2 separate regions of the Homo sapiens genome follow, and region 2 is linked to region 1. The links come from fine-mapping of genetic effects on gene expression. Tissue or cell type: whole blood. Region 1 holds a variant in brackets; the other region holds the start of a gene. All regions are shown on one strand. Distances are between the middles of the regions.

Region 1 (5,370 bases):
CTGCATAAACTCGAAGCCACACCGCCCCTGCCAGGAAGGTTAGTGCTCGTAATCTCTGGCCATGAAGCTGGCTGCCTGGGAGGACTTGGACTGGCGCCTGATAACCCAGAAAGAGCCGAGAGAACAGATGGGTAAGGACCCCAGCAGAAAACAGCCCCAGGTCACATGACTCGCCACATGGCCCCGCCAGCACAAACTATTGTCTGGCTTCAGAGCTCCCTATACAAAGGCACCCCGTCCTCCGCTTCCTGTGATTCCAGGGACAGGCGACAGCTGTTGATCCAGTTCCAGTATGGGACCCTCCCCTGTGATAGGGCATTCCAGGCAGGGGCAAGTGTAAAAATTAAGGCCTCTCCCAACCAACAGCTTTCAGCTTCCTGCCAGCTGCACGTGGCTCACTTAGATCTCAGGAGTAATATCTTAGGACAGACTAGGCTTCCACCAAAAAAATCACCCTATGTACCCTGGTACATAAAATGACCAGCATAAATCATTCTCATTGTCCCTTCTCTCCCCAGCCAGACAACTGTATCTAACGCCCCTTATCCTGTCTTTTCTATATCCCCTAGTATTTCAGACCTTCTTTGAAGACTAGTCAAGAACCCCTAGCCCCCAATTGAGGAGAAATTGTCCAGAAACATGTTTGTCTTAGTTTTACTCCTAGACCCCGCCTCCTAAAATAAGGAGACTACCTTCATCTTGTTTTAAATAGTGGGGAAACATGACTTTTTATATGACCTAGGACAATAAGAGATTTCTAACCTCCTATTTGGCCTCAACAGAGACAACACTAAAGATTTCCTGAAGCCAAGCTGATGACAGGAAAATAAAAAAATCTCATTAGATTATACCAACACCTGTCACAGGGAATCAAACCCACTCAGCCTATGATTCTCTTCATTCATAACCTAGGAACCATAACTCAGTTTTCTACTTCACAATTCCTTCATTCTAGTTCATTCAAGTTCTAAACAAACTGACCATCTGCCTTTGGTGAGAGAGGAATCAACAACTAGTTTGCAACTACCACTCCCCAAAAAAGTTTTGTTTTTTAAAAATTCTTTCAAACTTCCATAAATTTCCAAGTGGAATAAAAATTGGCCAGACGCAGTGACTCACGCATGTAATCCCAACACGTTGGGTGGCCAAGGCGGCAGATCGCCTGAGGTCAGGAGCTTGAGACCAGGCTGGCCAACATGGTGAAACCCCGTCTCTACTAAAAATACCAAAATTAGCCTGGCATGGTGGCACGTGCCTGTAATCCCAGCTACTCGGGAGGCTGAGGCAGGAGAATCGCTTGAACCTGGGAGGCAGAGGTTGTAGTGAGCAGAGATCACACCACTGCACTCCAGCCTGGGTGACAGAGCAAGGCTCTATCTTGAAAACAAACAAAAAAAACCACCACAAAAATCAGTGAAAAGTTCTATCTACCCCATTCTGCTTACAGAAACCATTCTAGAAGATCAGACACATTCCCCTTTGCAGACTTAGCCCATTCCAATGATATCCCCTGAAGCACTAGCCTGATCAAACCTCCAGGAAGGCGCTTGCAACCAGATGTCAAACCAAGAACATCTAGAAAGTGATGTAAAACAAGACAAAGGCCTCATTCTCTTCTGGGCTTAGAGATATATAGACTACCATATCTCTATCCTTCCAGACCAGAAGATAAGAGAAAACTCACTAAGGTTAGAAGAAGGAGACCAAAAGGGGAAGAGTCATTGAATCATGTAGCAAAACTCAATCAGATTATGAGAAACAACCATAATAACCACCTCACAGCTGTCTACCAAAAAGAGGCATGCCAGAAAAACCACAACCAAGTGACTGATGCTTCTTCACTTCTTTGGCACCAGAAAGGGCCCTTCAAATAAAGCAGCTACAGCATCAAACTAATGAATCCCAACAAATGATAAGTCCTTCTCTCTTCATCCAGGGCACTTTCATTAGCCACATTTTCCATAACAGGTGGCTATCATCATTTCCAGAGAAAATGCTCTTCCTAAAATGATGAAGATCACTTTTTCCTAAGACTAAACTTAACCAATTTCTCCCTATTTCAAACAAATTACAAAAGCCACTAAGGAAACCAAGTAACTTCTCTGGAAAAAATCCTTTCAGGTACTGCTTAAAACCAAGGGTTGCCAGGCGCGGTGGCTCACGCCTGTAATCCCAGCACTTTGGGAGGCCGAGGAGGGCGGATCATGAGTTCGAGACCAGCCTGGCCAATATGGTGAAACCTGGTCTCTACTGAAAATACAAATATTAGCCGGGTGTGATGGCACGCGCCTGTAGTCCCAGCTACTTGGGAGGCTGAGGCAGGAGAATCACTTGAACCTGGGAGGTGGAGGTCACAGTGAGCCGAGATCGCACCACTGCACTCCAGCCTGGGTGACAGAGTGAGACTCGGTCTCAAAACAAAAACAAAAACAAAAACAAACCAGGGTGACCAAAACAATAGTAAGACCCCAAGAAAACTATGAAACAAGAACCAAAATGTCATCTCATAAAATTAAACGTCCCCTTCTTTACAACTTTTTATCTCAAAAGGCAGCAGTACAACCAGGTGCAAAGAGCAGTAAACTGAGAGGCAGTAAGTACATCTGGGGT[C/T]CAATCCCAGTTCTCAGACCAACTTCCTGAGGGAGTGGTCAAGACAATCAACCAGGTTGAACCTCAACCTCCTCAGCTACTCAATCCAATTCTACCCTCCAGATTCTTAATTAGCAGGTCTGGGATGGGGGCCGGGCCAGGAATCTTTTTTTTTTTTTCTTTTGAGACAGGGTGTCTCAATCTGTCACCCCGGCTGGAGTGCAGTGGTGCAATCATGGCCCACTGCAGCCTCAACCTCCTATCCTGGGCTCAGGTGATCCTCCCACCTCAGCCTCCTGAGTAGCTGGGACTATAAGCACATGCCATCATAGCCAGTTTTTGTAGAGATGGGGTTTCACCATGTTCCCAGGCTGTTCTTCAACTCCTAAGCTCAAGTGATCTGCCAGCTTCAGCCTCCCAAAGTGCTGGGATTATAGGCATGAGCCACTGCGCCCAGCCAGGAATCTGTATTTTTAATCTTAAGAGAGTCTCGTATCCAGTCTGGGAGCATTTGGGCTACATGCCCAAAGGTTAACTGACAATCAAATAAATTAAGGTTGTACCTTTTTTTTTTTTTTGAGATGGAGTCTTGTTTGCTCTGTCGCCCATGCTGGAGTGCAATGACGCCATCTCAGCTCACTGCAACCTCCACCTCCCGGTTTCATGTGATTCTCCTGCCACAGTCACCCTAGCAGTTGGGATTACAGACCTGTGCCACCAGGGCCTGCTAATTTTTTTATTTTTGGTAAAGACAGGATTTCATCATGTTGGCCAATCTGGAAGGTTGTACCTTTTTTTTTTTTTTCGAGACAGAGCCTCGCTCTGTCACCAGGCTGGAGTGCAGTGCGTGACCTCGGCTGACTCCAACTTATGCCTCTCGGGTTCAAGCAATTCTCCTACCTCAACCTCCTGAGTAGCTGAGATTACAGGTGCATGCCACCATGCCCGGCTAATTTTTGTATTTTTAGTAGCAACGGGGTTTCACCATGTTGGTCAGGCTGGTCTCAAACACCTGACCTCGTGATCCACCTGCCTCAGCCTCCCAAAGTGCTGGGATTACAGGTGTGAGCCACCACGCCCAGCCCAGTTGTACCTTTTTTTTTTTTTTTTTTTGAGACGGACTTTCACTTTTGTTGCCCAGGCTAGAGTGTAATGGCGCGATCTCGGCTCATTGCAACTTCTGCCTCCCGGGTTCAAGCAATTCTCCTGTCTCAGCCTCCCGAGTAGCTGGGATTACAGGCGCATGTCACCATGCCCGGCTAATTTTTGTATTTTTAGTAGAGACGGGTTTTCATCACATTGGTCAGGCTGGTCTCCAACTCCTGACCTCAGGTGATCTGCCCGCCTCAGCCTCCCAAAGTGCTGGGATTACAGGCGTGAGCCACTGTGCCCGGCCTCAGTTGTACCTTTTTAAAAAGAAAAAAAAAAAAAGTATAGAGTTTCACACCACTTTAAGCAAGTCACTTCATCCCTTGGCACCAGAATCATCTTTAAACAGGGATTAAAAACTGTTTAACAAAAATATGAGACAGTTCAAACGATAAGTATGTGAAATGCCTGTTATAGTGCAAATCCATCTCCAGCACAGAGTGTCTCTAGAATTCAGATGTACATTCGTTTTCCTTAGCCAAACAATGGTCTGAAGAGGGCAGTGCCTGGCCAGTAAAGAAAAGCTAGAAATGCACCTCAGATTCCCAAATGAGCAGCACTTTCAGCCAAAATCAAGCTTCCCCAAATTCCTATACTCAGTCTCAGATTTTTCTGGTTCACCTGGGCAAGTATCGTAACATACTAATGCTTTACTTATTTATCTTGTTTGCTATCTGTATCCTTGACTAGAATATAAATTTCAGGTAGGCAGAGATAAGAGATATGTATACAAAACAAACAAATGCTCCCCTATGCCCAAAAGCAGGAAAGGAAAGGGGAATGTAGAAGAGAAAGTGAAACTCTAGTGGCCTGGCAATTCCTGTCCCTATTAATGCTGAACTGAAATGCTTTGGATCTACAGGAGTACCCCCCATTATCCTTGATTTTGCTTTCCAAGGTTTCAGTTACCCACGGTCAACCACAATCTGAAAACATTACATACAATAAGATATTTTGAAAGAGAGAGACCACAATCACATAACTGTTGTATTTTATCATTAGTTATTGTTAATCTCTTACTATGCCTAATAAATTAAACTTTATCATAGGTATGCATGTATAGGAAAAACAAAGTACAGTCAAACCTTTGTATCCATGGGTTCTGCATCCACAGATTCAGCCAGCCTCAGATCAAAAATGTAGTTAGTAGGCCTACGATGGTTGTGCCTGTACTGAATGTGTACACTTTTTTTCTTGTCATTATTCCCTAAACAATATAGCATAACAACTACTTACATAATATCTACGTTGTATGAGGTATTATAAGTAATCTAGAGATGATTTAACGTATACAGGAGAATGTACGTATTAATGGTTTATATGCAAATACCATGCAATTTTATATATTCCACAAATTTCAGTATCCTCAGGGAGTCCTGGAACCAACCCCCTACGGATACCGAGGGGCATTTGTACATATAGGGTCTGGTACTTTCAGGCACCCACTGGGGGTCTTGGAAGATATCGCCGCACAGATAAGGGAGGACTATTGTACATGGCCAGTTCTAGGCAGTGGCTTAAGAGCTCTGCCCCTGCAGTGCCTTCAACTTTTGTCTCTGTTTCCTTATCAACAGAACAGATAGTAGTACCACACTTCAGGGTCGAATAAAGTAAATAAAGAACAAAACAACG
Region 2 (5,370 bases), 67 kb before region 1:
GCCCTGAACTGTCGTTGGTAAAGTTCCATACAGCTAAGCAAGTAGCTGGAAAGCTAAGGTCACAGAAATCTTTTAAAGCCTATTGGATGCACTTCTGCAGGAACTAAAGATCTGGGTTCAACTCCTGACTCTGTCACTTACAAGTTCTCATTAGTCCCTCTGAGCCTCAGTTCTTTATATAAAAAATGGGAGCAGACTTTTTTTTTTTCCTATCTCACAAAATTGTCATGATGGTGAAACAGACCAAAGTGTGAAGTTCTACTCAAATCTGTGTTGTGGTTGCTATTATTTGGCGTGTGCCCTTTTCCTCTTGCCCAGAATAATAAACTAGGTCCCAAACCAGAGTCCCCAAAGTGGGGCATAAAACCATACTAGAAGACCATAATGACTCCACACTCTAGCTTAGCTCTCTGATGTGTGTTCAGCTGGTCTGTTAAATTAAGTGGGGAAGGAAAAGAAAACCACCACTCAGCAGGACCTCAGCCAGCTCACACTGCTGAAACAAACTGAGGGTGAAGACAGAGTAGACTACCAGGGATGGAGAAAACTGTTATTTGCCATCTCTTTGTTGGGATGGTAGCAACGTATAAACAATCGCAAAGCCACTCCGAGGCAGGGAATGCACCTTAAGGCATCTTTTATAATTCCTTGAGCTAAAAGGAGTCATAAAGGCTCCTCAAGAACTTTCAAACACCAGCCTGGGAAATTTGAAAGGAAAGCAAAAGCATCAGAGGCAGCTCATCAATTTGGGATGAAGAACTATGCCTAAAAGGAAAAAAAAAATTTGAACTGAGAAATTTAAGGAGGACGGCTGGAAGACTCTTTTTCTTCTCTTATCTGGCGAATACCTAAAAAACCTGTATCACTTGTTTCTGGAATTCTCTGATCCTCACTAGACAGTGTGCTATGCCCTCATTACATTCTGCCCTATTGCCGTTATTGCTATTGCTTATTTAAGTTGCTAAGGGCAGGGGCTTTACATCACAACTATATCCCAGGGCCTAGAACACAAATAGGCATCTTAAACCTGTGTTCTGAATGAATGGAAGTGGTAGGGACAGGATACAGCATCAGCAGTTCACTGACTCTAGATATGAAATCAGTGCCCCAAGTATTCTTCCCATCATATCTCATGTCAAGAGCAAGACGACAAAGTCACAGAAGCCACAGGAAAATAAAATTTCCCCAGAAAGGGAGCCAAGTTGGCCAATGGCAACAGTACTCTTTCCTTGGCACAAGGGGGCGCCTGCTGCTTACTCCATCGCCAGGAGGCCTGGAGGAAGGGAGGGGCCCCCAATTCCACACCGGTTGGCTCACGAAAATTCGGTTCAAAGGCAAGCTTCTGAAAGCCCCAGACAGTAACGATAGTTTGTGAATCTAAACGTTTCCAACGTATGACTCGCTGAATCGAGAGAAATCACGGAAATGGGCATACTCAACCTCACGCGGCTACTCCTTCCCTATCCTAGGGCGAATTCACTCTTTTTTCCTCTTCCTTGGCTTCCCACGCGCATGCAGAAGAGAAGCTGGGATCAGAAAAGCACCTAACCCACCTCTGCCACTTGACCATGCTTGCATTCTTCCTTTCCTCTCTCGAGTCAAGCTCTAGCCTCAGCGACTACAGATGTGTGTAGCCCACACTTTGCTTACAGGTAAACCAAGTAAAAACAAAGCTAGTCAATTCTCCCTCTCAGCTAATTGCCCACCTCACTTCCCAACAACCCCTTTGCCAAATCACAGACTCTTAACTGGCAGGACACTTACAGATCAACTAGTTTCACTCTTCAAAAATTTTCCCGTGAGATAAATAGGCTCCAGAGATCTCATCAGACACTGTGAGGCTAGTATAATTACCATCGCCATTTTATGGATATGGAAACTGAGGCTCACTGGGGTCAAGTGACGTACCCAGGGCTACTTAAAGAGGCTGTCATGTTTTCTGCTTCTTAAACCTCACGGTACCAGCCCGCATCCCTCGCCAAAGGGTACGCGCCCTTTCCGAGCCAGGATTATGACCCAGGTCACCCAAACGCCTAGCCCAGTACTTCCATGCCGCAGCCTGCCCTTGCTAGGTATGCTTAGGGTAGTTGGGCCCTATCTGAGAATCTGGGACATCCTGTTGAACGGCAGCTCTGGACCCTCTGGGTAAGACTAACACCCCCTGCGCAGGCTGGAGAAGTCGCTCTGACCCAGGGTCCTCAGAGCCAAAGGCCTCGTGGGGGCTGCCTTCTGTCAGCCCAGCCGTGTCCGCAACCCGTTTCTGGCCGGCTCCTTTTGGACACAGTCCCTTCTGGGTACTAATCATCCACGCTCACCCCAGAGGGGCCACGGCCCAAGGACCACTCCCGAGGGAGCCTGCAGAGCCCCACCAGGCCACAGGGCCGGAAGCAGACGAGGGCGGGAGGCTGGAAAGGAAGAGGCGGCGCCCGAGGCTGCTATGGCGGAGGGGCGGGGCTCCCCGCTTCTCCGGGCGTCTGTCTCATTTCTACCGGCTTCCATTTGACAGCTTCCCTCCCGCCAGAACTCCAGGGCTCCCAAGCTGGCGCGGGGTCCTCAGCCCCTGCCCGTCCCGACCTCCCCGGCGGGGACCGAACCTCAGCTCCTCCATCCGGGGCCCACGCGGCCCGCGCCTGCGCGCTGGCTCCGCCGACGGCGTCCCCGCCCCGCTCCTGCCCGGACTTGGAGCAGCCCCGCCTCCCTGCGCGGCGGCCATGTTGACTCCGGGCGAGCGGGATGGGGGTCGCCGCTCGGCGCCTCGCCTCGTAGCACCTTCCCACCTTGGTGACACCTGAAGAGTTCTCTCGCACTTCGCTCTCCTTCAAGGCCCCCCGCCACCCCGCCTTCAAATAGTGAGCGGAGGCTGCTGTCTCAGAGTCAGTGCTCTTGCCCCAGCTCCCGCTGACGTTCACTGAGTTCCCGGTGTGGGCCGAGGCTCTTGTAGTCGGAGGCTGACCCGCAGCCTCTTCACAGAAACCAGAGCCGCGCTCTTCCTGCTGTCAGGCAACAACAGCTCAGCACAGGGCCTGACACACAATAGATGTCCTCTGAATAGCCAAAGAAAAACATTCTTGGGGTTTCTGTGGCCGGCAGCGGCACCCTGCGTCCTGGGTGTGAAGAAAGTGGGGGATCCCCCTGATTTTCCCCTCCTCTATCTACCAGAGACCTTCTGTCCTACTTTAGTCCTCAGCCCCACCTCAGGTGGCTAATGAGGATGGTGAAGAAAACCTCAGAGAACACCCTCCAGGGCTCCTTTCACCTCCCTCACCCAAGCAGTTTCTCTCATAGGAAGTGGGGCCAAAAAAAGAAGAAAAAAAAAGAGGCGAACTCAACAAAACCGTCTATTGGGGGGAGCGGCCAGTTTGTACCCTTGTAACGGAAACTGTTAGAACAACTTTGCACCCTCCTTAAAGGAAACAGATGATAAATCCTTCTCCGTTGGTGGATTTCTTGTTTCTCAGGATTCCAAAGCCTTATGTGGTTTCAGTTATCTGCCCTCCAAACGAAGCCAGGGGCCGGGTTAGCCTCTGGCCACAGCCTGGCTCAGGGAGGGGTTTATCTTCTGCAACGGCTACTCATGTGGGTGGGAACAAAGAGATGGTTGCTACCTCTCCAGGCGAAGACCAGCCCACATCAGTCTGTGGGGGCCTGGGACTGTATCTCTTGACTCTGTAACTCATTTCAGGCCCTGAGACCTAAATTGCCTTCAGATATCTGTTGTGTGCAAGGTGGAGAAAAGGCAAATCATATTTAGTCGTTGTGTGTTGGAGAAGGGGGAAAAAATGGAGTTTCATGGCCCTTCCCCCAGGTTTTTCAGTGCCACGCACTTGTTCTCAGCTCCAGAGGCCTGTGAGTAACGTGGCAAAGCCTGGGGACACACTTGTGACTGGGGCCTAAGGCTGTGACTTGAATCTCTAGAAGTCCACCATGAGGCTCCAAGCAGCACTCTCTCTGCAAAGACAAAACTGAGAAATGAACTGTCCTTGCTCTGTAAATTCACAAGGGGAAAAAAGACATGCATTCTCAGGGTTCCCTCTGTCCACATCAAATTCTCTCAAAAATCTATTTGTAAAAAGGCCAGGGGTCTCTCAAGACAAGTCAGAATGTTTTTTAAAAGCTCAGCTGTCACCCTGTAGAGGTAGAACTTTATCCAGATTTTCAGCTGTACTTTCCTGCAATTTCTCTTTTCCTTCTCTGCTACCCAACCCCCTCCTCTTCCGCTCTGTTTCCTGTTTCATTTTCTGACTTCTGCTCTGACAGGAAAACAAGGAAGCTGAATCTTGTGCTCTCAAAGCCCTGACTCCCTGGTTTCAGATTGGAAGAAGGCTAGGTGGGATAGGAGGGGATTCTGGGACTCCAAGGCTTTGAGTAGTGACGGAGGCAGCCTCTCAGTGTTCTTGTAGAGTCTGCAGCTAAGATGGAGCCTGCATCTACCCAGGGAGCCAGCTGAGCTACCAGAACTGTGGAAAGCAAGTGAGAAAGAGCCATATCCCAGGCTCCAGAAAGACTCCACACTTCCCAGCCATTTCCATTAAGAAGCACATATCCCACATCACCAAGAAACAATATCACATACAAATCCCTAACCAGAACAATGCAAGCAATGCATTACTATTCTAGAAGCTTAGGATTTAAGAGGGTTACATCATTTCTGTTCTTTGAACTTGCCTGGCTCTGCTCTTGCTATTTTCCCTGCTTGAAGCACTCTACTTCCAGACCACCCTTTGGCTAGCCCATTATGTTTGGGTCTCCGGAGAGAAGTCACCTCCTTAGAGAGGCTTTCCCTGTACTATCCCATCAGTCTGTTCTGTTTTTTTTTTTTTTTTTTTTTTTTTTTAAAGATGAGGTCTCACTATATTGCCAAGGCTAGTCTGGAACTCCTAGGCTCAAAGGATCCACCCACCTTGGCCTCCCAAAATGCTGGGATTACAGGTGTGAGCCACTGCGCCCGGCCTCTGTTTTCTTCATAGCACTTAACACTATCTGCTTGTCCTGTCCATGAATTTTACTTGTTTCAATGTCTGTTTCCCTATTCTAGAATGTAAGCTTCTGAGTGTAATGGAGGAGCAAGGGCTTTGTTCACCAATGTATTTCCAGTTAGAACAGTGCCTTGCACACTGTGTGTCTTCAATAAAGATCTGGTCAATAAATCAATTTCTTTAATCCTATACCTATATTTTATGGATGAGGGAGCTAAGGATCACAAAGGGTAAGTGACTGGCAAGAAGTCACATAGCTAGTGGTAGCGATGGGACTTGAATTCAGGTCTCCAGCCTCCCAGGCTGGTTCTCCCACTCTACACTATTTTAATCTTTCACAGATTTACCTCTTTCCCTCTCTTCCATTTTTCCCATATGTAAGAGTCTTTACGGG

The links. PIP is the estimated chance that this variant, and not a neighbour inherited with it, causes the effect.
Region 2: it holds the start of PIGV, and the variant in region 1 is fine-mapped to the expression of PIGV in whole blood (INTERVAL, PIP 0.92).

What each region holds. Positions count from the first base shown.
Region 1 is chr1:26,718,274-26,723,643 of GRCh38, reverse strand. The region is part of intron 1 of ARID1A (AT-rich interaction domain 1A); the gene reads right to left. Among named protein-coding and RNA genes, the nearest start is that of ARID1A, 25 kb to the right of the region's middle. RefSeq lists enhancers at 1-515, 1-544, 575-1,154, 1,155-1,735. The variant C/T (reference allele first, on the strand shown) is at 2,611.
Region 2 is chr1:26,785,214-26,790,583 of GRCh38, reverse strand. PIGV (phosphatidylinositol glycan anchor biosynthesis class V) reads right to left here and starts at 2,634. Exons shown (of 4, transcript NM_017837.4): 1 at 2,316-2,634. RefSeq lists enhancers at 1,058-1,187, 1,995-2,194, 1,882-2,708, 2,755-3,194, 3,715-3,864 and a silencer at 2,495-2,704.